Linked DNA regions of Homo sapiens: regions 2 and 3 are each linked to region 1. Evidence: fine-mapped expression QTL. A gene starts in region 1. Each other region holds a variant in brackets. All regions are shown on one strand. Distances are from middle to middle. Region 1 holds the start of PEF1-AS1 (PEF1 and COL16A1 antisense RNA 1). Region 2 overlaps COL16A1 (collagen type XVI alpha 1 chain). Region 3 overlaps COL16A1 (collagen type XVI alpha 1 chain).

Evidence for each region.
Region 2: its variant is fine-mapped to the expression of PEF1-AS1 in prefrontal cortex (BrainSeq, PIP 0.95).
Region 3: its variant is fine-mapped to the expression of PEF1-AS1 in cerebellum (GTEx, PIP above 0.99). The same link has a PIP of 0.9 or more in cerebellar hemisphere.

Annotation. Positions count from the first base shown.
Region 1 is chr1:31,639,482-31,647,656 of GRCh38, forward strand. PEF1-AS1 (PEF1 and COL16A1 antisense RNA 1) reads left to right here and starts at 4,655. Exons shown (of 6, transcript NR_184313.1): 1 at 4,655-4,815; 2 at 5,231-5,365. PEF1 (penta-EF-hand domain containing 1) reads right to left here and starts at 5,395. Exons shown (of 5, transcript NM_012392.4): 1 at 5,360-5,395. The coding sequence starts at 5,383. RefSeq lists enhancers at 5,125-5,895, 5,215-5,284, 5,525-5,864.
Region 2 is chr1:31,691,461-31,699,635 of GRCh38, forward strand. COL16A1 (collagen type XVI alpha 1 chain) reads right to left here. Exons shown (of 71, transcript NM_001856.4): 5 at 7,023-7,146; 6 at 6,446-6,712; 7 at 5,760-5,840; 8 at 5,503-5,628; 9 at 4,628-4,681; 10 at 4,301-4,327; 11 at 3,726-3,761; 12 at 2,684-2,710; 13 at 1,632-1,694; 14 at 1,307-1,348; 15 at 1,138-1,182; 16 at 1,014-1,049; 17 at 545-607; 18 at 138-182; 1 more. Among named protein-coding and RNA genes, the nearest start is that of COL16A1, 8.5 kb to the right of the region's middle. RefSeq lists enhancers at 5,002-5,511, 7,656-8,175. The variant T/C (reference allele first, on the strand shown) is at 4,881.
Region 3 is chr1:31,669,891-31,678,065 of GRCh38, forward strand. It overlaps COL16A1 (collagen type XVI alpha 1 chain), which reads right to left. Exons shown (of 71, transcript NM_001856.4): 43 at 5,368-5,421; 44 at 5,117-5,149; 45 at 2,834-2,950; 46 at 2,706-2,747; 47 at 2,526-2,612; 48 at 1,725-1,769; 49 at 712-756. It overlaps LOC101929444 (a long non-coding RNA gene), which reads left to right. Exons shown (of 2, transcript XR_001737631.2): 1 at 1-462; 2 at 942-1,177. Among named protein-coding and RNA genes, the nearest start is that of PEF1, 29 kb to the left of the region's middle. The variant A/G (reference allele first, on the strand shown) is at 3,202.

The DNA of each region.
Region 1 (8,175 bases):
CACTCTAAAGAGTTTTGTTGGGGCTTTATGCCGGAGAAAACAGAGCACTATAGAAGGGTTTCCAATAGGAGAGGAACGTGATGAGAACCTTGTTTAGAGAAGTAACCAGCGGCGGTGTGGAGGATGAGCCAGTGAGGGAGGCAGTAGCCCAGGTGCTGGGCAGGCAGGGCATGAACCAGACAGCACACTTGGGGATGAAGAGAACGGAATGGATTCTGAAGCTATTTCAGAGATAGACCAGACATGACTTGGTGACTAATTAGATTAGGAAAGAGATGGAGGAGGAGTGAGGAAAGTGTTCAGAATGACTCGGGTTTCTAGCTTTTGCACAAGATGAAGGAGGTGGAGCCAACTGAGACAGAATGCAGGCTGCACAGGAAGTTTGGGGAAGAAGATGAGGTGGTCCCCACCTCACAGAGGGTCACCCAGTGTCACTGAGTTGTTAGCAAAGGTCTGAACCAGAAATGAAAAACAGCATCCCTGACTCCACGTTCTTTTACACTACTCCATGCTCCCAGCCCTTTTTAGAGTTTTTCCAAGAGTTATTTCATACTGATAAACAGGATTGTGAAGGCAGGTGGAGGGGAAGGACAGGAAGAGTTCAGTAACTGCAGCTTCTGAAGCAACACAGAAAAACTATCTCTAGGGCTCTGGCTGATTGCAAATAAGCTACATCTGATGCCCTGGGGGGACTGGGGGCAACAAACATTTACTGAGGCTCTGCTAGGTGCTTCCAGTTCAACCAGCTCTCACTAATCCTCAGTCCTGTGAGGTAAACAGTGTCATCTCCATTTTGCAGATGAGAAAATTAAGGGGCAGAGAGTTTAATAACATGCCTGAGATCATGCAGCTAGAATGGGCAAGTTGGGATTCAAGTCAGGGTCTGCATGACTCTACACTACCCCCTTCTGTTTGTTCACTCAATAAATGAGTGAGTGCCTAGCATGTGTCTGTGTGAGGGACTGTGCTAAATGTCTTTGTCAAATATAATGAATTTCTACTGTGGACAGAGGTAGAGGGGAAGGCTGGATTGGGTGATCTCTCAGAGCCTTCAAGCCCAGAAATCAGGGACTCTTAGAAAAATCTCATTCTTTTTCGTCCCAGCACCTAGAGTCACTTTGAGAGCCAAGCCACATTTTGGAAGACACCCCAAAGACTCTTCAGTTCAACCTCTCAGTTAATAATGGAATCTCTGCAGAACCACCTGGAATCTCTACCTGCACTTGCGCAAGCAGTAGGGAGCTTACCTCCTCCCAAATAACCACCTCAGAAAGTCCGGTATTTTTTTTTTCTTTCCAGTTCTGAGGACTCAAGTCTTCTAACCTCAAGACCCCTGTGAAGCTTAAAGGTATCAACGGCTGTTCCAAGCTGAGCCCTGATGACGAATGGAGGAGGGAGCATTGCAAAGACAAGTTTGTACCCCAGAGCTACCCTTCAAGTGCACAGGAGGAGGTGGGAAGCCCAAACTAAGGGGTTAAACAATCACAGGAAGACAAGAGGAACAGTTCAAGCATTCACCAGCAGAGCCACTTGAAATAGGAGAGAAGCACGCAACCAATAAACAATGAGCCAAGAACCATCCCCAGACTTCAATTACCTCTGTGCTCACACTTTCAAATCTTTCCAGCTTCATCACTCCTGAGCTACAGACCCACATATCCAGCAGCCTACTGGACCTTCCCTCCAAACCCATGCCTCCCTGTGTTCTCATCTCAGTGAATGGAGCTCCGTTCTGCTTAATCATCCAAACCTAAGGCCAAGTTTTCTCAAATCTACCTCCCAAGTGCTTCTCAAATCTCCTCTACCAGGTCACAGTTCTCTTTAGCCTAGATTACCTCAATAGCGTCAAAACCGGTATCCCTGCCTCCTGTCTCTCCTGCTTCAATCCATTCTCACAGCACCCCACAGTAAGCACTCCAAAGCACAAATGGGACAAAACACTTCACTGGCTCCCTCACTACTCTTAGGATGAAGTCACACTCCCCAAAAAGGCATACAAGGCCCTTTGGGATCTGGCCCTTGCTTACCTTTCTAGTCTTATTTCCTACCCCTTTCCCCCACATCACTACAACTACACTGAACTTCTTAAAGTTCCTCCAAAATACTAGGCTGTCTTACCTGCTTCATGGGCTTTGTGCAGCTATTTCCTCTGCTGGAATAGCATTCCTTTCTTCACTCAGCTAATTTCTACCAGTGATTCAGTTGTTGGCTTAAATATCACCTCTTTTAAAAATGCACCCCTAGACTGAGTTAGGTATCTCACTCTCCCGTGCTGTACCTTACACTTACTCCCATTGAATACTTATCACATTGCCTCTTCAATCTGCATAACTGCATTACTCCTCCACTTGGAGTATTCTACATGCCCAACACCATACCTAGCACTTTACGTGGATTTTCTCATTTAATCTTTAGAGTAATTCTGAGGTAGATACTATTATGACCCCATTCTAAAGAAGGGAAAACTAGTCCAGGCGTGGTGGCTCACGCCTGTAATCCCAACACTGTGGGAGGCTGAGGCAGGTGGATCACCTGAGGTTAGGAGTTTGAGACCAGCCTGGCCAACATGGCGAAACCCCGTCTCTACTAAAAATACAAAAAATTAGCCAGGTGTGGTGGCGTGCGCCTGTAATTCCAGCTACTTGGGAGGCTGAGGCAGGAGAACTGCTTGAACCCGGGAGACGGAGGTTGCAGTGAGCCAAGATTGTGCCATTGCACTCCAGCCTGGGCGACAGAGCAAGACTCTGTCTTAAAAATAAACAAATAAATAAAAAATTTTTTTCAAAAAAGGGAAAACTGAGTCTCAGACTTTTGCAACAAACTTCTGCAAGGGAGTGACAAAGCAGGGATTTGAAATCAACTCTCTCTGGCCTCAAAAACTAAGCTCTTAAGCACTGAAATCCACCAAGCTCGTTCCCCCATAGGACCAAAGGGTGCTTGAATTTTACTACTCCAATACCCAGTCCCTGCTTGGGTACCCTGGACTGGAAGCAGTGGAAAATTACAGGAATTCTGACTCCTAACAATAGGCTGGAATCCTCCAAAGCTATGTAGTGGGTGGAGGGGAGGCAGCACTGACTGAGATGCTTTAAAACAACTCGTTTCCTTTCTTAGAACACCTGAGACCAGGAGGCGGACAAGGGTATGGTAGGAAAAAAAAACAACATTTCTTTTTCTATTCCAGACTCTTCTCTCTGTGCTCCTTTTCAGTATTTCACTCCAGGAATAGCCCAGGCAGCATGGCATCATGAGAGCAGTCACGGCAGCAAGAGCTGCCACCAGACACTGGCATGTACTAGGCACTAGCAACACGCCAGGCTCCCTGCATTTTAACCTCATTTTAGCCCTTTTCACAGGTATTATTTCTCCCTTTATACAGGTGAGGAAGCTGAGGCTCAGAGCCCTTAGTTTGTCCAGGGGTATATAACTATTAAGTAATACAGCTAGAATTCTAGCACAGTTCTCTCTAACCTGTCACTGCTTTTAGGATGCACACCAATTGTCCCTAATGCTTATTAGCATGTAGATTCCTGGGTACAGAACAGGTCTGAAGTGGGACCCAAAAGTGTGCTTTCTTAAACAAGCTCTCAGCTGATTCTGAGGCAGAAGACCAGCCACTGGGAAACAAGGCGCTATGAATGTTTTTTCAGCCTGTGTTCCTCAGAAATACTAGAGTCAAAAAAGTGACCAGACATCTGAAAAGAAAGCCGGGAGGCGGAGTTTCTATGGTTAGATATGTTTAAGAAATACTGCATATTATATTCCTTTCTGGATGATTTACAATGTACATTAGCAAATTAAGGATTCTGAAATAGCTTGTGGTCAATAAACTTATTCAGCTATACTTAAGAGTATTTCCAAAACTTTAGTTAACTACAGAATCCTCCTATATTAACAATATCTATTAAAACCTCCCAAGACTCAGCAAATGGAATGGACTTTAGGAAGCAACTGCTATGCTACACTTCCTAACTCCAGCCCGCACTGGCCTCTCTCTTTCCTACCTCTCTCTAAGGATGCAATAAGAGAAGTCCTAAGCTCTGGTCATGGCCTCACCCTCACTTACTACGTGTGACTTTTGGGAAGCCACTTAACCTCTTTGGGTTTGCTCCTCAGCAGTTAATTAGGGGTAATAATACCTGCATGCCGATAGGGACTTCATGATTAGGATAATGGAGGTCCAAACACTGTGTAACCCGCACAAGACTGCACTCCCTGGAAGGACTGTTACATCTTTTGGCCTGTGACTAAACTCAGTTGAGCACTGTGTAATATACCAATTGATCTTGTTTTCCCACATTTCGTTTATGGATTTCATCTCCTAAATAACTGTGTGATCGCAGCCCTCTGTGGGCTTCATTTCCTCCTCTGTAAAATGAGGGCTCTATTTTGAGGACCCTCCGGGCACTGGCCTTTTAGAAGTCTACTAAAAATCAAAATGCTAAAGGGCAACACATGTTACACCTCACTATGTACCAAACGCTTCGTAAGCATCACCTCCTGACTCTCCACAACAGCTTTATGAGGCAGATCCTATTATTCGGCCCTATTTTACAGGCGGAAACTTGGACTCAGAAAGGCAAAACAGCTTGCTCAAGGGCTCACAACTATTTAGGTGGTAGAGCTAAGATATGAACCTACCTCTGACACCAAAGTGCACTTCAACACCCTACTATCACCCAACAAAGAATTCTGGCCACAGAATCACCTTGCTGCGGTATTCCTGACTGAATCAAGATACGCTGGGGAAGAGGCATCTGAAGATAGCCCGGGTTCTGACCTCGGCCCTGCTGCCTAACTGCCTGGTGACTTCAGGTAAGTTCTGTGTCTTCTCGGGGTTCACTTTTCTACACGCGAAATGGCGGTGTTGAACTAAGTCAGTGGTCAAACCAGCTCACTTGTGGCGCCTGCTACAACCAGAGTTTCCTGATGACTCTGATGCAGTGTGGGGTGGGTCCGGAAGCCTGGATTTTTATCCGACGCCCCAAATGAGATCGGCGGAACCAGAACTCTAAACCTCCGGTCATGGCTGATGCCCCCGCCCAAGGCCCCCATGAGGGCCTTGGGAGGCTGTGGAGCCCAGGCCAGCGCCAGCCTGGACCTGTGGGGTCCAAGGTCCCCAAATCCTCGAGTGAGCGACGTCAAGGGGGCGCGACACGACCTCGCGAATGTGCGGTCCTTCATGACGTGAGCAGGGCGCGACCGACGGTCCCTTTTCGGTTCTCTACAGCGCAAGGCCTCGCTGAAGCGAACCCATCGTGGGAAGGGCGCGGAGAAAGCGGGGAGAAAGAGCAGGGGGACGTCGGGCCTGCGCCTGGCACCGCCGCTACCTGGATTCGCGGGCCCCTCACACACTCACCTGCCGGTAAGGATAGCTGGCCATGGTGATTCTGACGTCACACTCAGGCAAGGGGTGGGGCTTTCCGCTCTCAAACCCGCCCCTCGTCTCGGCTTTGGGGCTGGGCCCGCATCTGATTGGACGTCCGCGCCTGTCAATCTTGGGTGCTGTCGGCCGACGGAAGTGACGATGGGGGCGGTGGGCGGATGCCTACCCGAGAGACCAGGGGAGCTAAGTGATTGATGGAGCTTCCGGAAGTCTTGGCGGCTGTACCAGCGCTAATGTTCCTCCTTTTCCTGAGGTGGAGTGGGCCGAAGAGGTGGTCAGGTTGGGAAATTTAGTGAGAAGCCTGGGTGGGGTGTTGCTGCGGTAGCCATGTTATAACCTGGCAAATGGGACGCATGATAGTGACGTAATTGCTGGAGTAGCTCCTGAGTTTCCGCAGATGAGCCGCGGGAAAGGAGACGAGGGGCGGTGGCCAGGCGGTTGCCCTGACAACGGGGAACCGACCGACTCTTCCCGGTAGGGAGAGGCGATGGCGGAATTACTCCTCTAATGTCAAGGTACTGGGTACCAGTTAGTACCCTTGTAGTGGGATACAGATCTGTGGTCTTTGGAGAAAAAAACCCCAGATCATTAGAGTTGGAGGAAAATTGAATTATCTAGTGCCTCTTTCTTCATAAATGGGGAAACTGAGGTGCAGAGAGGCAGTTGCCTTGCCCTAGCTCACAGTGGGTCGCCTAGAACCGGGGTCAATGGATGTCCAGTTCTCAGCAGGGAGGTCTAGGTCGGTCCCCATCGTAGGTCAAATCCTGGTGACCGAGTGATCTCAGCACCATGTACTTGCCACTCAGTGGTTCCGTTTCTACACTTATTTGTGTGCTTATTTGATTTCTTTGTCAAGTTCTTTCATGTGGGCTAGGGTTTTGTCTGTTTTTGCTTGTCATTATAACTCCAGTACCTAGTATAGCGACTGACACGATTATTAAAATAAATGAATAAATGAATGTTACGAACTGTTATCCAGTCTAGTCCATCTATCTAACCAAGTGCACTTTCCAAAATCACAGTGCTGATCATGCCACTTGCCCACTACACAGCCTACAATGGATGCTCTTCATCCACGCCTACAAAATAAGGCCCAATCTCTTCATTCTGGTACTCCAGGCCCTTCAGAATCTGGCCCAGCCTCAACTTTCCAATCTTACGGCCCCTTCTGCTACTCTGTATTTCTGTGCTCAGTTCCACCATTCAGCACTTCTGCTTTGGAGGGAGGATCTTTGTTTTATCACTTTCTAACTGTATCACCTTAGGCAGGTTTTTTGTTTGTTTGTTTTTAATTTCCAACTTTTAAGATCAGGGGTATATGAGCAGGATGTGGTTTGTTACATAGGTAAATGTGTGCCATGGTGGTTTGTCGCACACATCATCCCATCACCCAAGTGTTAAGCCCAGCATCCATTAGCTATTCTTCCTGATGCTCTCCCTCTTCCCACCTCCCTCTACGCTCCGACAGACCCCAGTGGTGTATGTGCTCTCCTCATTCAGCTCCCACTTATAAGTGGTAACATGCGGTGTTTGGTTTTCTGTTTCTCTGTTAGTTTGCTGAGGATAATGGCTTCCAATTCCATCCACGTCCCTGCAAAGGACATGATCTTGTTCCTTTTTTATGGCTGCATAGTATTCCACAGTGTATATCTACCACATTTTATTTAGGCAAGTTATTTAACCTCTCTAAATTTCACTTTTCTTAGCTGACAGGAACAAATGTGTAAATTTGAAAATGAGCTTATTATACCTGCTCATGCCCCAAACTTAGGTTCAAACCACTCCTTTCACCTGGACCAGCAGCCCTCCCAACTCCAGTCCTGCAAGGCTCAGTTCCAATTCCATTCTCCACCTAACCCTCCCACATTCCCCTTAGCTCCAGAGTTAGCCACTCTCTCTTGCCACTCCCCCTTTGCACTTGGTACTGTCACTGTGTGGTATTCCAGCCTGCCTTGTATAAGAGTTTTCTTTTGGTGTTTTCCCCAAAACCCATTCCTCTCCATCTCAGAAAATCCACCCAGTCTCTCAGGCCAAAAACCTAAGATCATTCCTGTGTGTCCTTTTTTTCTCCACACACTCCCTCACCTCCCTCATCTCCATTTGCTCTAATTCAAACATGTACACATCTGCTCTTTTCTCCCTGTTCGCACTATCACTGTAGTCCAAGACACTATCATCCGTGCCTGGATCACTACAATAGCCGACTGACCAATGTTCCTGCTCTCACTCTTCTCCCCACGCTTCATTTTCTCCACAGGCAGCCAGAGTGGTTATCTTATTCCTTGGCTTCAACTCCCTGGGGACTTCCCATCACTCTTATAATAAAAGCTAAACTCATCCTAATGACATTCATGGCCACACATACCAGCATCTCCAGCCTCATTTCTTGCTGTTGCTGTCCCCCTTGCCTCATTCCAGCCATGCCGGCCTGGTTGTGCCATTCCTGGAATGTACAGAGCTCATTCCTGGATGTTGGCTTTGGCTGGTCTCTGACTGCCTGCTCATTCCTGCCTCCAGGTCTTTGGACTAGCTTTTCCCTCTGTCTGGGATAGTCTTCCCTTGACTTTTCACTGGTTGGCTTCTCCTTATCATCCAGGTCTCAGTTCAGATATCACCTGGGGTGGGGGGAGTTTCTTGACACTGCCCCCCAAGCATTCCCATCATCTATCTTATTTTTTCATAATACATGTCACTAGTTGAATTGTCCACTTTGTTTACATGTATATTGTAGAATTGTCATTTTCTTATGTAGTCCTCTAACCTCAGCACCTAGAATAGTGCCTAGCATG
Region 2 (8,175 bases), 52 kb after region 1:
GGGGCCCAGGCTCTCCTGCCAGCCCCTCAGGCCCAACAAAGCCAGGGTCTCCCTGGCACAGACATAAGGTGGGCATCAGAGAGCTGCCACCCCAGCCCTGCCACCCCATCTCCACCCCACAAACATCCACAACTCACCTTCTGCCCTTTGGGCCCAATGACACAGATCTCTCCTGGCCGGCCCTGTGGGGGGATAAGGGGGAGGGTGTACAAACAGCCCTGAGGCCTGGCACCGCCCCACTGGGAGAGGTGAATGCCCACCTGTCCCACCCTCCCTGCCCCTCCCCCAAACCAGAGCCCACCCTGGTGCCCCAAGGTCAGCACATGTCAACCTTATGGTGTTAGAGGTTCGGGGCTCTGAGGCTGGGAGTGAGGGGGCCTGGGCTCAGGTCCTTTTCTGTCCCCTTCTTGCTGTGCCTCCTGTGGCACAGCCCCTCCCCACCCTGTCTGAGCAAGGGGAGGGGGCTGGATTCCCGAAGGTTAAATCCCAGCATTCTCAGACCCCGTGCTGTGGGTTGTGGTGGGGAAGGGTCCCAGGCACCTACGTCCCGGCCTGGCTTTCCCGGCACGCCCTTGATGCCTCCGTCGCCCTTCTCGCCTTTCTGGCCCTGGGGAAGGAAGAAGCAGAGTGACCAGGATGAGGGAAGGGCCTGGGACAGCTGGGCAGCTCCATCTGGTGGAGGGACAACTGCCTTCTAGACCCCTGGTCTCTGTCTCCCCTGAGGGTGAATGGCTTCAATCACCACGGGAGGGTAGACAACAGACCAGACAACAGGTAGAACTTCCAAACCAGCCAGGCCACTTACTGGGGGAATCTGTGGCATTTCCCTCTAGGTCGGCTGGGTATTTGGACGAGGCAGGGTGACTGGGGTGGGGGAGATGGGGGAGGGAGGGTCCTGCCAGCTCTGTGCCCACTGACACCCTCTCCTCAGAGAACCCCGACTCCTCCTTCCTCATGGCTGTAGAGCCTGCAGACCTCCCTGGAAATCCCCCCTCCAAATCCAGGCTTGTTACCTTCTCGCCTGTTGAGCCTGGGAGTCCTGAGGGTCCCTGAGATGAGGAAGGGAGACAGAGGAAGGGAGGGTAAGGCTGGGCCCTGGACCCACCATCCCTGCCCTATCCCTGGTCCCACACTCACCAGAGCTCCTGACTCCCCCTTCTCTCCCTTCGGGCCTTCTGCACACTGAACAGGGGAACACAGTGTTGAGAGGGGCAGAGGGTCACCTGATGGGCTGCCAAGCGCACAGTCCCTCCCCAGGGGCTGGCCCCATATTGGCCCTGAAGCAGGCATCACCTCCAAGTCTTACCTGAAGTGGGGCATCCGGGGAGATTCGAACACAGTCATTGCCCTGGGAGTAGGGAACAAGGGATCAGGGGTGGGAACTCCTGGGGAAGTCCCCTAGATGTGTTGTGAGGAGGATCGGCCCGGGAACCCCATAGTCCTAAGTATCCCTAGAAAAGGGGGGCTTCTACACCCAAACCCCTAGAAAGACCCTGGCCCTCACCCCCCTCCCGTGATCTGGGCCAAGCTGCAGGCTTTCTGCCGGGATGATGGGATGATGGCTCACATCCCACCTCACCCCAGGGCACAGCTGGCAAAGGTCCTGCCACGGGCAGGGCTGGGACACTTACCCGTGCTCCCTTCTCTCCCTTGGAGCCTGGTGGACCAGGCAGGCCCCGCTCACCTTTCCCTCCCTGAGAGTGAAACCAGAATGGAAGATAGGACCAGAGGGGGCACATGGGAGCCTTGAGAAAGCTCTCCCCACTTCTGGCCCCCTCCACCCATCCCCCCACACACGGGTACGCAAATACGCACACATGTGAGCAGTGTCCTGCCCCACGCCTCCCCCCACCACACACAAGCATATGGATTCCACACCTGTTCATCCACATGCCCTCCCACCCCAAGATGCTATATTTGGCAAATCTACAGTCTCAAGCAGGGGGGTATCCCATCCCCCACACCCGTACCCAAGCACATCAGCTCACACACAGCACAGCCGGAGGCATATGGACACACACATGCACGGTGGCAGAAACCCATGCTGGCTGAGTGTCAGGCTGCCTGACTTCAAATCCTGTACTTGCTAGCATGTCACTCAGAGCAGGTCATGTCGCCTTTCTGAGCCTCAGTTTCTTCATCAATAAAACGGTATTGACGAGCACACACAAGCACAACTCACAGTTGCATAGCTTCGCTCCCCATCACTCACAAGCTCTGCAGCCTCGTTAGGCCCACAGGTATATGGGTTCAACTCCAGCCTTCGTGTGCCACACATATGCAAACATGTGTCCCAGAGATGCATGTAGCCACACCCACACATAATCATTCTAACACACCCTGTCAGACATATGTGGGCACAGCTGGGCCTCAGTTTCCCCTGAAGTAAAATGATAGCACCCACCCTGCAGGCTGACTATTGAGAGGGTTCAAAAGGGTAATAAGTGTGCATAGGTGTGGCCTAAGGCCTGGTGCACAGAAGGGCCTCAGAAAAGGGCAGCTCTTAGCATCTTTGCACACACACAAACCCCTGCTTTCTTTACCACGCATACACTTAATCACCCTACACACATACAGGCTCAGGTGGCCCTGATAGAAACACACAGCCACAGGGTCACATGCTGTGGGAATGGCTGGGGATGCTAAAGAGGACGGGAATGTCCCGTTCTCCATTAGGACTCACCTTGGGGCCAGAGGGAGCAAGTGTGACCTGAGGGGACAGAGGAGAGGGCATCACACTTCCGGTAGAGAGAGAAAACCAGGGGCCCAGAGAAGTCAAGCAATTTAGACAGGGTCACACAGCATGGTAGCAGGACCAGCAGCCTGTATCCCAGCCCCTGCTCTGCTTCCCAGGCAAACTAGCAAGCCGATTCCATTTCCTCAGCCTGTAACATTTGCAGAGGGTCTAACCTACCTCCTCTAAACTGCCTGGCTTTGGTTAGCTCCGCCTCCCAGTTGCTGGGATAACATGGCTGCTTGGTTTCCATGGTAACCTCTGCACATCTGGGGACCATCAGTCTTAACAGATTTGGTGGGGGACTGGATTGAAAGAGGGAGCAGGGAGCCTAGGAGGTACTCCTGATGTCCCCCAAAGTCAGGGGGCTTAGAGCTGAGGGGAGCTGGGGTTGTGCCCTTGGTGGACCAATGTGGCAGGTCAACTCAGAATGTTAGGCCCCAGAAAAATGGTGACTCATGCTGCCTATGGAAGAGGCACAGTTGGGTGCCAGCTGGGCTCACACTGAGCCCCTCTCCTTGCCCTTCTGGACCCCCATAGGAAGGCTGGACCAGGGCCAGCTAGAAAGAGACAGCAGGCCCTGAACCAACGCTGTGGGAGCCCTTGCCGTGCTGAGCCAGCTCTTCCCCTTCTCTAGGCCTCCAGGAGAATGAAGGAAGCCTCCACCAGGGCAGGGGGAGAACTTGCAGGGAGTGCAAAGCTGCGATCAGCAACCAAGGCGCTGGTCCTGCCGGCCACCATCCCGTGCCCATGCCCTGAACCCGAACACACTGCAGATGACAAGGCAGGTCACAGGCTTTCTTCCACACAGTCCTGGCTTGGTGGAGATGGCAGTGGGGGTTAAGCCCGGCTCTGGGAGATGGGCAGGGAGCGAGTGTGAAAGTGTACAAAGACCCCCTTGTCCTCACCCAGGAGGCTGCCAAGCCAGCTCTAGGCAACGTCCACTCCCGGCTCTTGCCCGCTCCACCCTGCACACCCTCCATTCACTCACATTGCTGTCCCGGGCACCATGGACACAGGGCGGACACTGAAAGGGAAGAGCAGGCGAAGAGGTCAATTCTGAGCCCCTGGGGTGAGCCCTCCCCACCTCCATCACCACCAGGCCCACAGAACATCACACATATCTTGAGTGGAATCTGAGGGGAGCCTGAAGATAGGAATCCTATAAAACAAGCCTCACCCCTCATTTCCCACCCACCCAGCCCCACAGCCATTTTTCAGATGGGGAAACTGAAGCCCAGAGAGGAATAGCAATATGCCCCAGGTCACACAGCATGCTGGGGCAGAGTACGGCCCAGAATCCAAGGGCACCGTGGCTGAAGGCTGGGCTCTCCCCATGATGCCCGTGGCCATTTGCTGCCAACTCAGCAGGAGTGTCCTCCAGGGCTACCTACCCCCCAACCCAACGAGAGGCAGTGGACAGACAGGGCCCAGCATCAGGCCCTCAAGGAATGCCAGGAGCTGTGTAGTCAGCCAGCACCCCTATGCTGAGGATCCGTGCCCAAAGCCTGGTGCAAAGGGTTCATGCTGGCACCTCCCCTGCTGCCAGTCCACTGGGAGGCTTACCTCATCGGCTGCTGTCTCCTGATGGACCTGAGGAAAGGGTGGGGGGTGTGGGAATGGGCAGGGAGCTCAGGGGGCCGAGCACTGTTTCCAACACCCCTACCCCCAAACCAACAGGAGTGGGCACTCTAGAGAGTGCCAGGCACTGCGTCTGTCTCACCCCCATCCGTCCTTCTTGATCAGAGCTGGCACCTACATGTCCTAAGCTCTGTCCAGGAGGTGGGAAAGGCGGGAGGAGAGTGGGAGTGGAGCACCTTATCCCTGGGGTTTACAGGGGCACAGAGGGCAGACTGAGGGCAGGTAGGCTCCTCCCCCCACCCCCACCTCTACCTTTGCTCCCCTTTCTGCCTTCTGGCTGATTCTTCCCGTCAGCTGGGCATCCACCTGGGCAGACAGAGCAAAGAGAAACCCTTGAGGAGGGGGAAGTTCTGGGGTCCAGGCTGGAAAGGGGCACCCAGGCAGGGGGCATGGGCCCCAGGTAATCCTTCAGCCTGGCATCTGGCACCTCCTGGGGCATCAAGGGCCTGCTCAGGCCCCTGTGGCTGCCCCAACAGGTCCCCCTCCTTCCCCCCCCACCCACCCA[T/C]GTGATGTCAGAGCCAACAAGACCATGCATCAATGGGATCCTGTGTTCCTGCAGCCCAAGGCTGGGCAAGATGCCCGAGCGGGCAGGGAGAGTGCCCAGCCAGGGGGTGGGGCTAAAGGAGGAACCAGGCTTCCATGCCACCTCTAAAGAACCTGAGAGTGGGCAGACAGCTGGCCATGGTGCTGGGTGTAAAACCAGTCTGGCCCTGGCCGGCGCTGGGCCCAGGAGAGTGAGCCATCCCTGGGGGGAAGCAGTATGACCTGACCTCTGATCCCAGGTATCTCTGTTCTGGAGAAACTGGCTTTGAGGGACAAGCCTGGTCCTGCCCTCATCAGAAGAGTCTGGATGGCATCCGTGAGGGTCTAGGCAGTGCCAGAGCTAGATGGTACCACTCTCAACACCCATAGGTAGGTGGGCACAGGGCCACCCAGTGGTGGCCAGTGGGCTGTCTCTGCCTCCCTGAATCATTTAGGGGTGGCGTACAAATAGGGAGGGCTTCCAGTGCCCCTCCTGCCCTGGGCCCATGGCCAACTGACCCTGGTGGCAGACGTCAGTCAGCTCAGGGGAGGGGTATCTCACTTGTGCCTGCCTGTGCTGGCATCCACCTGTCCTGCCCACCCACCTCGCTGTTTTGAGGCTCCTCCAGGCAGAAGCAGCGGGTGTAGACCTTGCCTTCAGACTGTGGATTGATCTCAATGAGCTCATTGCTCTGGGTGTCCCGGCGGGCCTTGGAGGTCTCTGGGGGGCACTGTTTGGTGGAAGAGCGGGGCTAGGGTCAGTACAGGAGCAGACTCCTCCTAAGACCTCCAGGCATCACCTTCCAGACCCTCATCTCCAGCACAGTGTGTCCCTGGGCAGCCCAAGGGCCGGGCCACTCACCCCTGCTGGTAAAATCTCACAGCAGCCCTCCTCCAGCACGAGCTCCGGGTCACAGTAGATGTGCACCTGCTGAAGGTCAAACTGCAGGAGACACACACATCAATTTCACTTCATTTTATCAAATAGCTCTGTGTCCTGGCCCCCCAGGAGGCACAGAGATGTCTCTGCCCCAGGATGTGACCTCAGGGTGTTTCCAGTCTGGCCTGGGAGACATCAAAAATAGAGTTGTCACCAAAGGCAGAACAAAACTGCGCACACAGGAACGAGGGAGAGGAGGCCCAGAGGAACAAAAGAGGAGGAGGTTCCATTCATGCTGGGCTTTGAAGGGCTGGTAGCTACTCAGCGGATGAGTATGCAAGGAAAGGCATTCCAGGTGGAGGTAACAGCGTAGGCAAAGGCACGGCAGTGTGAAAGCACTGGGTGCGCTGGATGGCTAGGATGGAATTGATCAGAGCAGAGCTGCACGGAGAGATGTAAAGGAAGATGGTGCTGCAGACACTTATAAGGACCAGATCATGAAGGGCCTTGAATGCCAGGTGAATATGTTTAGGCTGCATTTGGAGGGCAACAGGAAAGCAGGGGAAGATTCTAAGCAGGAGAAGGACTTGTTCCGATACGGATTCCAGGAAGCCCACTCAGGTTCCCAGAAGGCAGGAACAGAGGTCAGGGCCTGACCTAGCACTCACCGAGACAGGCTTGCCCTGCTCAGCATCCAAGCCTAGAAATACATGGCCCACAGGCCTCATGGGTCGTCGGGGCCCCAGAGGCTGGGAGGAGGCTGAGCTGCAGTCCACGTGCACAGAGGCCACACGTCCAGCCACACTCAGCATCAGCTTGTGCCAACGCAAGTCGAAGAGCTGGGGCACTGGGAAGATGCAGGACACAAAGTCGCCATCCTGGCCCTGGGCCCTGAGCTCCAGGCTCCGCTCTTGGCTGTTGACTTCCAGGGATATCTGGGTAGAATTTGGAAAGGGAAAGGACAGAGATTCAGAGCTCCAGAGTCACACCATGGGCACGTTCAGGGACCTTGAACTCATTTCACAGGAGGGGAACTGAGGCCCAGAAAGAGAAGAAAGCCGGCTGGGGTCAAGGAGCTATACATCCTGAAAGAATGAGGTAGGTACTGGTGGGCTGGGGACAGGCTTGAGGGTAGGCACAGGATGGAGCAGGGAGACCCCAGAAGTCACAAGCCGGGATGAAAGGTGGGCTGGACTGGTGCTACCCAATGCCCTAAGAGGCAATCAGGGCACAGGGGAGGTTCACCTGTGGATACCCATTTGCATCGGTCACTTGAAACAGATACCACGTCTTCTGGTGGGTGTGTTTCTTCAGCAGTAGTGTCAGCACCAGGGCAAACTCCTCCGGGAGACCCCGAGGGAATACTCTTCTGGAGATGGAGCAGGGAGGGTGCCCTGAGGCTCCAATGAGGACCCAAATGCTGCCCACCCTGAGCCCTCAGGACTGCTGAGCCTACCCAAGACATCCACAGGCACACATCTTCCATCATATACATTCATTCACTCTCCATACCTTTACTGAGTGCCTTCCGCGAGCTAGGTGCGGGTCTGGCTGCTGGGAATAACAGTGGTGAAGGCTGGGTGCGGTGGCTCATGCCTGTAATCCCAGCACTTTGGGAGGCCGAGGTGGGCGGATCACCTGAGGCCAGGAGTTGGAGACCAGCCTGGGCAGCATGGTGAAACACCGTCTCTACTAAAAATACAAAAAATTCGCCAGGTGTAGTGGCAGGCGCCTGTAATCCCAGCTACCCGGGAGGCTGAGGCAGGAGAATTGCTTGAACCCAGGAGGTGGAGGTTGCAGTGAGCCAAGATCACGCCACTGCACTCCAGCCTGGGCAACAGAGCAAGACTTGGTCTCAAAAAGAAAACCAACCAACCAACCAAACAAACAAACAAACAAAAAACCCACATACACAGTGGTGAAAATACAGAGGCACTGCCTGCCTTCATGGAGCCTTCACGTCTGATGGGGGCAGGGAGGCCATGAGCAAAGAATCCCCAGAATGACTATTTCGCTATCGCATTGCAATTTGAATAAGTGCTTCCAATGAACCCAGAATACCCTAGGTGAATAACTGGAGCAAGGGTGGAAGGAGAGATACTGAAAAAAAGATGGAAAGGGTTCAGCATGACCAGAGCAGCAAGAGATAAAAAAGAGCATTTTGAGAGCTGAGGTTGAAGAGGCAAGCAGGGGCCAGGCCAGGGCTTGTGGGAATTTGGACTTCACACACATGGGTGCACACACACGCATGTGCGCACACACACACATGCACACACGCACATGACTCTTGCCAGGTTCCCGCCCACATCCTGTGTTCTCACAGTGCCCACAGGATGCAGACCTGTTCCCACCCACTGCTGGCCAGAGACAGGGGAAAGACAGAAGGTAGGTCTGCCAG
Region 3 (8,175 bases), 30 kb after region 1:
GCCGCACGACACCCAGAAACCCAACTGGCTGATATCACATGCCCCGCCTTGGAGCAGACTGGGACTGGAGCCAAGGAAGAGGAAGCGAAGAGGAGGCAGCTGAGAGTTTCCTCTAGGACGACGGAAAAGGCGCAGGAAGGGCTGCCTTTAAATCCCTGGGTGCCTCTGGACAGCCCTGCCAAGCAGCAGGGCAGCAAACCTGTGCCAGCCTGCAATGTGAAGCCCTAAAGCTTTGGCATCTCTGCTGGGCTCTGAGCCAGGTGCCTGGCAGGGCCCCAAGAACTACTTTCAGCAAATCTTCAGGCAACGCCGAAGGTGGTGAGAAGCAGGAGGCAGAGCGAGAAGGCAGGAATGGAGGGGCCCCCTAGAGGCACCAGCTTAAGAGGAAGGTTCACGAGCTCAGGAGGACTTGGGGGAGTGCTGCAAGATGGTGCGAGAAATGGAGAAGGAAGACAGAACGGGGTAAGAGAGAGAAGAGGAGAGAAAGAACGCAGGAGAGGAGGGAGAGGAGAAAACGGAAAGGAGTCAGAGACTGGGAGGATGTCCAAGCTGCCGGGACCTCAGAGAACCCGTGTCGTTAGCTACCGTGCCTGAAGGGGGACAACAAACACGGAGGACGGAGGTGAAGGCACGACAGGAGGGAGACAAGCAAAAGCCACAGAGACCTGGCTGACGGGGGGGAGGGGAGGTCGAGCAGCGCTAGGTTCTTACAGGCAATCCGGGGGAGCCAACAGCACCAGGAAAACCTGGGGGGCCCTGGTGGGAGAAACAGGCAGGTCACATCTCACAGGCACAGTAACCCTGGGACAGCCTGGAGGGCACAGTCTGGGGCTTGGGGGTCATGGGGAGAGGAGGTCATGGGAGTATTTTCAAGGCAGCTGGAAAAGAGACTCCTTGAAAGTCTTGGCTCAAAAGACAACTGTTCCTCCCCTTGGCTCCAGGAAGAATGGCTCCTCCGTTGACGGAGATGCGGAATGGCTCCAGAGTCAGAGGGCTTCCTGAGTCTTCCGGAGTCTAACTGAAGATCCGGTTGCAGCAGAAGCCCATTTCTTTCAGCCTTGCCCACCATGCCTGCCACCCGACCTCCACCTGTCCCCCGAGTGGGGGGCTCCCTGGCTCTAAGACAGCTCCCACCAGCCATTTTCTTCTCCAGAGAAAGCATTTTCAGTTCTTTCAATCTTTCCTAGTCACTTCTATTTTCCTGCCATGTCAACATCACAGAGGACTCCAGAGTAGATACCCTGGTCTGGTTTTTGTAGATTTACCCTAGAGATGGCCCTACAGAGCAATGGAGGACAGCTCCATCTTAGCCCCGAGCCCTTGTGGGGACTGGAGTCACAGGGGCATGGAGAGGTCTGGCCAGCATGCCGCATGCTTCCCTGGTTGGGAGGCTGTGAGCCTGAAGCCTAGGCCCCCTGCCGAGGGCGGCCTGGGGCCACTGTGGAAAGCGCAGCAGAGGGTGGGGACAGGGAAGCAAAGAGGTGCCTCTGAGGACCTCCCCTAAGCAGGACCGCAGGCAGTAGGCAGAGCAGGGCGGTTCCAGGGCATCCGGTGGTGGGAGAGCACAGTCCCTGCAGATGCTCTGCGGAGGGATGGGGAGGGCAGTGGAAGTTCCCTCCTCCTGCCTTGCCCAGCCTTTTGGGGACAAGGCCGCGGGATGGTGTCTGAGTGTAATGACCCCTTTGAGAGCTTCTCAAGCAGACCAGGGCACCACTGATACTTACGATAGGGCCTGGAGGACCCGGGGAGCCCCTCATGCCAGGCGGACCCTGCAAAGGAAGCCAAGGGAAATGGATGAAGAGGCCCAGGCCCCATAGAGCCCCTGGGATTCCAGCAGCCTTCCTCCCAGCTTGCCAGGGCCAAGGTCAACAGAGGGTGGCTGCTGTCCAAGCAGGACCACTTAGCTGATGTTCGAACAATCTTTCATTTGGCCCATTCGGTCATCCTACAAACATTTAACAAGCAACTATTACGTACCAGGCATTAGTCCAGGGGCTAGGATCACAGCATAAACAAAATAAATAAAAACCCCTGCCTCAAAGCAGTTACATTCTAGGGGAGAGACGGACACTAACAAATAGAACAGGAGCTGGCACATAGTTGGTGTTGAGCTGACACCTGTAGAATGTTCCTGAATGAAGTAAATAGGCAGGATGTTGGATGGTGATGAGTATGATGCAGGCCAAGGGGACTGGAGGCTCTGGGGTTGGTGTGGAGTTCAATTTTAAAGAGGGTGGTCAGGGGAGGTCTCTCTGAGAAGGAGACATTTGAGCCGAGCTGAAGGAGTGCAGGAATAAGCCCTGGAGAAGAGCGTTGCAGGCAGAGGATGCAGCTGGGCACTGGGGAGAAAGAGTGTGTCCTACGCTGGGTCCTGTGTATCCCAGAGAAGCCACGTGCCAGGAGAGCAGATGAGCCCAGAGTGGTAAAGGGCATCAGTCAGGTGAGGCCTCGGAGGCCCCCAAGAGGTCTCAAAGGCAGACAGGGCCCCAGCTCCCTTGAGGATGAATCCCCATCCCTGGTCTTACCTCTTCTCCTCTCTGGCCTGGCAATCCCGGAGGACCAGGTAGGCCTGGGCTCCCAACACAGCCAGGATCTCCCTCACTGTTGTCACCCTGGAGAAGGATGGAGACGGTGATAGTGAGCAGTCAGGGCCTGTCCCTGTGGGGCATGGGGCATGATCGGGGGAGATAAGGCGAGGCACTCACCCGGGCCTCCTCGGCTCTTGGGCGCTCCAGTGACAAAAAGCACTGCAAGGGACAATGAGAGGCACATTGTCTGATGAGGCAGCCAGGGAACCCTCCTGCATAGGGCAGCCCCAAGCCCAGTCCCTTACCTGGGCGCAGTTGTCGAGGCCTGGCACACCAGGGATGCCCTGGTCTCCCTTCTCTCCCTTCTCCACGAGGTACCCTGGGTGGGCCCTCTGCCCCTGGACACAGTCCCCGCAGATACTCTGATCAGGGAGTGGGGAGAGGAGTGGGGCCTGGGTTAGAGATGGGCAGGATGGGCCAACTGGGGAGCCCCAGTGAGAACCCAGAGCCAGGGCTCCCTGCCCTGCCGTCTTCCCTCCTCCCACACTCCCTCCCTCCCCAGCCGCATCCCTGCGGCAGCTTTGCTCCATCCTCGGGGGACCCACTCCCAACAATTGGCTTTGAGTTTCCTCCAGGAAGAAGCTCTGGTACAGCTAAGCCAAAGCCACTTTCC[A/G]GACAGGCATGTGGGTGGAGGCGAGGGGCCCGCAGAGGGACCATCTGTCCCGGCTGTTCCTGCAACCTGCACCCACTGCGAGGACAAGCCACGAGGAGTGAGGCTGGAAAGGCTGGCTCCGAACGCCAGCTTCTCTGCCCAAGGGAGCAAAGGAACAGCTGCGGGAGGAGCCAGGCCCTTCCCAGGAGCCCCTGGGACAGATCTCAGATTGCTCACAGGCTCCTGGCTCGGATCGCGCCACCAGAATTGTCTTCCCCACAGGAAGGGCTTTAACCTTCTTTGGGTCACAGACCCCTCTGAGAGTTTGATGGAAGCTATGGGTCCTTTTCTCAGAAAAATCAAACCCACTAGTGAAAACCAGCCTGCAATTTCTGAGGACTCAGGAGCCCGGAGCCTGTTTGTGGCCAGTGTCGTGTCCACAGATGCCCAGGCAGGAGCCCCTGCTCACTTTCACTGCTCACCACCAAGCCCAGTAATAACGACTGGCATTTACTCAGCACCCATGACGCTGGGCATTGTACATAATAAGCCCTGCACATTATCACATGCCATCTTGACGGCGCAGTGAGACAGGGAATCTTATAAGCATTGTGGAGATGGGAAAGCCCACTCAAGAGAGGCGGCGTGACTTGTCTAAGGAAAGTGGGAGCCTGGATTGGCGTGGGCCTGTCCTAGGCCACAGCCAGTGCTCTCTCCCCAGGCTTCCTGGACTATGGGTGCAGGTGGTGGCTGGGGCTCTGGGTCAGCATGCCCCGGGGTGCCATCTGACCCCTTCTCCACACTATGCGCACTTTCTATTTGGAATCCTCTGAAGAGCACTTGATGAAGAAGCCAACAGATGAAATGTTACAGGAGAAATGTCAAATCCTGGATTTGGAGTCACACGATCACTGCCCAGTCATTGACAGAAGCAGAGGGGAGAAGAGCTGGGGGTTTCGTTGCCACAACCTCACTGTGATCCAACATGTAACTGATGCCAAGAGGTTACCCCGACCTCCTCTGGCTGCTTCTGGAGAAATCTGCCGTTCAGAGCAGGGAAGGGGTAGACAGCCCCCATGCTCTGCCCTGACCAAGGCCCATCGGGGTCATGGGATGTCCAGGGCACTAATTAGCCAGTGTCAGAAGAGGGTGGCCAGGATGAGGGGGGGCTCTGGAGGCCAACACATGGGAAAGACCCCTGAGGATGCTGGGCTAGAGGAGAGAAAGTCCAGGAACATAAGGGCCTCCTTCAAAAACCTGAAGGCAACCTGGGGAATTACTGTGCTCTCGTTTCTAGAGGTGACTAAGCAAAGATGGGCTATGTGACTCTTGATTCCAATAGGAACTTCTGCTCAGTTTGGGAAGCCGGCCCAGGCCACAGCCCTCTGGTAGAGCATTAAGGCTGTGTACAGGCCCTGGCACAGGCCGACCCTCTGACCAGGTCCGAAGTCCCCTTTCTTAGACTACCAGAAGTGCTTCTCAAATCCATCTCCTCCCTGGATTCTTTCTGGATTGACTAGAGAACAGCTGAAGCTTTCTTCCAGGCCACACCCAATCTCACAGCCCCCCACCACTGCACTTTCACCCCCTCTGCTTTGCTTTGGAAGCTGCTGGGCTCTGCCGCAGGGTGACCCGGGTGCTACGGGGTCTCATTGCCAGCTGCTGCGGGCAGGCTTCAGGGCTGGGTTCTGCCGACAGCATCTGCCATGTGGGCACCTTCACAGGATTCCTTTAAGCACTCATTCAGCAAATGTTGCCTGGGGGCCTGTTACAAGCCAGGCATCAGCTAGGCCCTCTTAGACAGATGCTTGGAATGCGTATTCCCTGCAAACTGCTGCTCTCTCTGCGAGGTGCCACACAGCTGAGCACTTACTAAGAGAATCCCCTTAGGAGACACCCCCGCCAGCTCACACTTCCCTCCTGGGTACCCTCTTACCTTAAGGAGGTGCTGTTCAATTGGTAAGGATCCCTGCAAGAGACAGATGTGTGGGCTCAAGCAGGTGAGGGGAAGGAACATGGAGACTTATGGGATCAGGGAGAGCCTTGGGACACGTCATGCACCTTCCAGCCTCAGAAGTGGGAGAGAAGAGGGACCCCCACTGCAGCTACCGGGCCAGCTTCATAGCCTGAGCAGCCCTGGGAAGGGCAGGGAAGGGGCATGCACAGGGAGTCCTGGCCAGTACCCACCAGTTCTGCAGTGAGCCCAGGCTGTCCTGGCAAACCGTTGTTTCCAGGCACTCCCTGTAGCCAAGAAGAGACACGAGTGAGTGGGCTCCATCTCTCTAGCCTGCTGGTCAGCCTGTTTCCTTCTCATCATCCCCGCCTCCTCTTCCCCTTGTCCTGCAGAGCTGAGAGCCCTGGCTGGCACAAGGCTGACATCTATTCTTAGCTCAAAAGCCTCTCGACCCTTATAGGGAAAGCCAGGGAGGCCCAGAAGAGCGACCCCCCAAACCGTCCAACAGCAAGTGTTTTCCCCCCACATCAGAGGGAAGGTCAGAAATTGAGCAGAGGGTCTTCCATGGAACTACTGTTTATTTCTGTGCTAAGTCGTTTTTCTATATTTTCTCTCTTTCTTTTTCCTTTCCTTTTCTTTTTTCTTTTTTTCTTTGTAGAGACGGGGTCTCACTCTGTCACCCAGGCTGGAGTGCAATGGCATAATTATAGCTCACTGTAGCCTCAAACTCAGCTCAAGCGATTCTCCCACCTCAGCCTCCTGAGTAGCTGGGACTAGAGGCGCTCACCACCATGCCTGGCTAATTCTTTTGTGTTTATTATAGAGACCAGGTCTCGCTGGTAGGCTGGTCTCAAACTTCTGGGCTTAAGTGATCCTCCCCGCTCAGCCTCTCAAAATGTTGAAATTATAGGCGTGAACCACCACACCCAGCCTATTTTCTCGTTTAATCATCACAGCTATCTTGTTGAACTAGGTGCTGTTATCTCCATCTTAAAAATAGCACAAAGAACCCAGAGGAGGCTGGGCACGGTCACTCACACCTGCAATCGTAGCACTTTGGGAGGCCGAGGTGGGCGGATCACCTGAGGCCGGGAATTCGAGACCAGCCTGGCCAACATGGCGAAACCCCGTCTCTTCTAAAAATATAAAAGTTAGCAGGGCATGGTGGTGTGTGCCTGTGGTCCCAGATACACGGGAGGCTGAGACAGGAGAATCACTTGAACCTGGGAGATGGAGGTTGCAGTGAGCCAAGATTACGCCACTACACTTTAGTCTAGGCAACAGAGGGAGACTCCGTCTCAAAAAAAAAAAAAAAAAAGAACCCAGAGGAGTAAGTAACTTGCCAAAGGTCACAAGTTGAGCAAGGCACAGAGCTGAGGTCCAGAGCAAGGATCACTGGCTTCTAACCCCTCTCTTAACCACAATTCTAGCATCATTCCTCAACAGACATCCCCAGAACATTCATGTACACAGCAAGGGTGGGTACTTGCCAGTCAGATTCATCTAGATACAAAATTCTGACTACCTGTATAACTTTTGGCAATTTATTTGGGGGAAAAAAATTCTATGCCTCAGTTGCCTTATCTATAAAACAGGGATAGTTTATGGTGAGGCTTCAAGGAGACAATGGCTGCAACGATGTTTACATTAAATCCATGCCACCCGGACAATGTTCCCCTTGCAGATTCGTGAGGCACATTTGCATATTAAATACTCCATGGAGGCAGGGAGTATGTTCCATTTTGAATCCCCAGCACCCAACATGGAGGAGATGTGCAGTAAGTACGTGTTGAGTGAATGCACCGCTGCTCAGCCTGCTCCTCCCTGCACAGGATTTCCTTGGCGCACTCTGAGATCTGGCCTTCCTTCAAGTCCCAGCTCCCAGCAATGGAACATATCACCAGCCCCCGAGCAATTTCCAGGCAGGCTCTACCAGGCCTGGGTCAGACCCGGAGCCAGCCACCATCCAGGCCCCCTGGCACCTCTGTGCACCATCAGGGCTTAGAGCAGTGCCTGGCACAGGGAAAATGCCTTGAACATGTCAATTATTATTTTTTATTTATTATTATTATTATTATTTTTGAGATGTATCACTCTGTCGCCCAGGCTGGAGTGCAGTGGTGCAATCTCAGCTCATCGAAACCTCCGCTTCCTGGGTTCAAGCGATTCTCCTGCCTCAGCCTCCTGAGTAGCTGGGATTACAGGCATGCACCACAAAACCCGGTTAATTCTTTTTGTATTTTTAGTAGAGACGGGGTTTCGCCATGCTGGCCAGGCTGGTCTCGAACTCCTGACCTCAAGTGATCTGCCGACCTTGGCCTCCCAAAGTGCTGGGATTACAGGCGTGAGCCACCACGCCTGGCCCGAACATGTTAATTATTATGCCTTAAATCATTATTCATCCCTTGCTCCCCTCTCCAGGGCCAGTGTGATAGTTCAAGCCTGATACTTTGTAATTGTTTTCCTGACCTCTCAGAACTAAATGTTCTACCTGTTGTCCTACTGCGGAAGCGAAGTGCAGCCAGAATTGAAAGCTGGGCTCAATGACCTACTAGTTGCCTCAGGCATCTTTCTTAACCTCAGTGCCTCAGCTTCCTCCTCTGTGGAATGGACTGAGATGAAATGAGATAACTAAGCACTGGGACAATACAGCCTTGGATGAGTAAGTGCTGTACATCCCTGAGCCTGTTTCTATACCTGAATAAAGGAGCTGCTTGGCCCTCCTGCATCCCACCTGGCATGGGGCAGGTACCTGTGAGCAGCAGCCTCGGCTTGGTCTCAAGCACTGGCACTAGGTAAGGACTCTGGTGCCTGGGACCAGACTCAGCAGTCACTCTTTTCTGCCTCATTCCCCAGCATGTCTTGGCAGGGTTTACACTACATCAGCTCTCGCTTATTAATGGGTCACTTTGAAATGACTCTTACACTTCCCCAAGCAAACTGCAAGCCCTCTGCAGACAGATTCCTGTTTCCTGGCAGTGTGGCAGGAAGCCCCAAAAGCCCCAGACACTCGGCAAATGTGTGGCTGCAAATATGTGGCG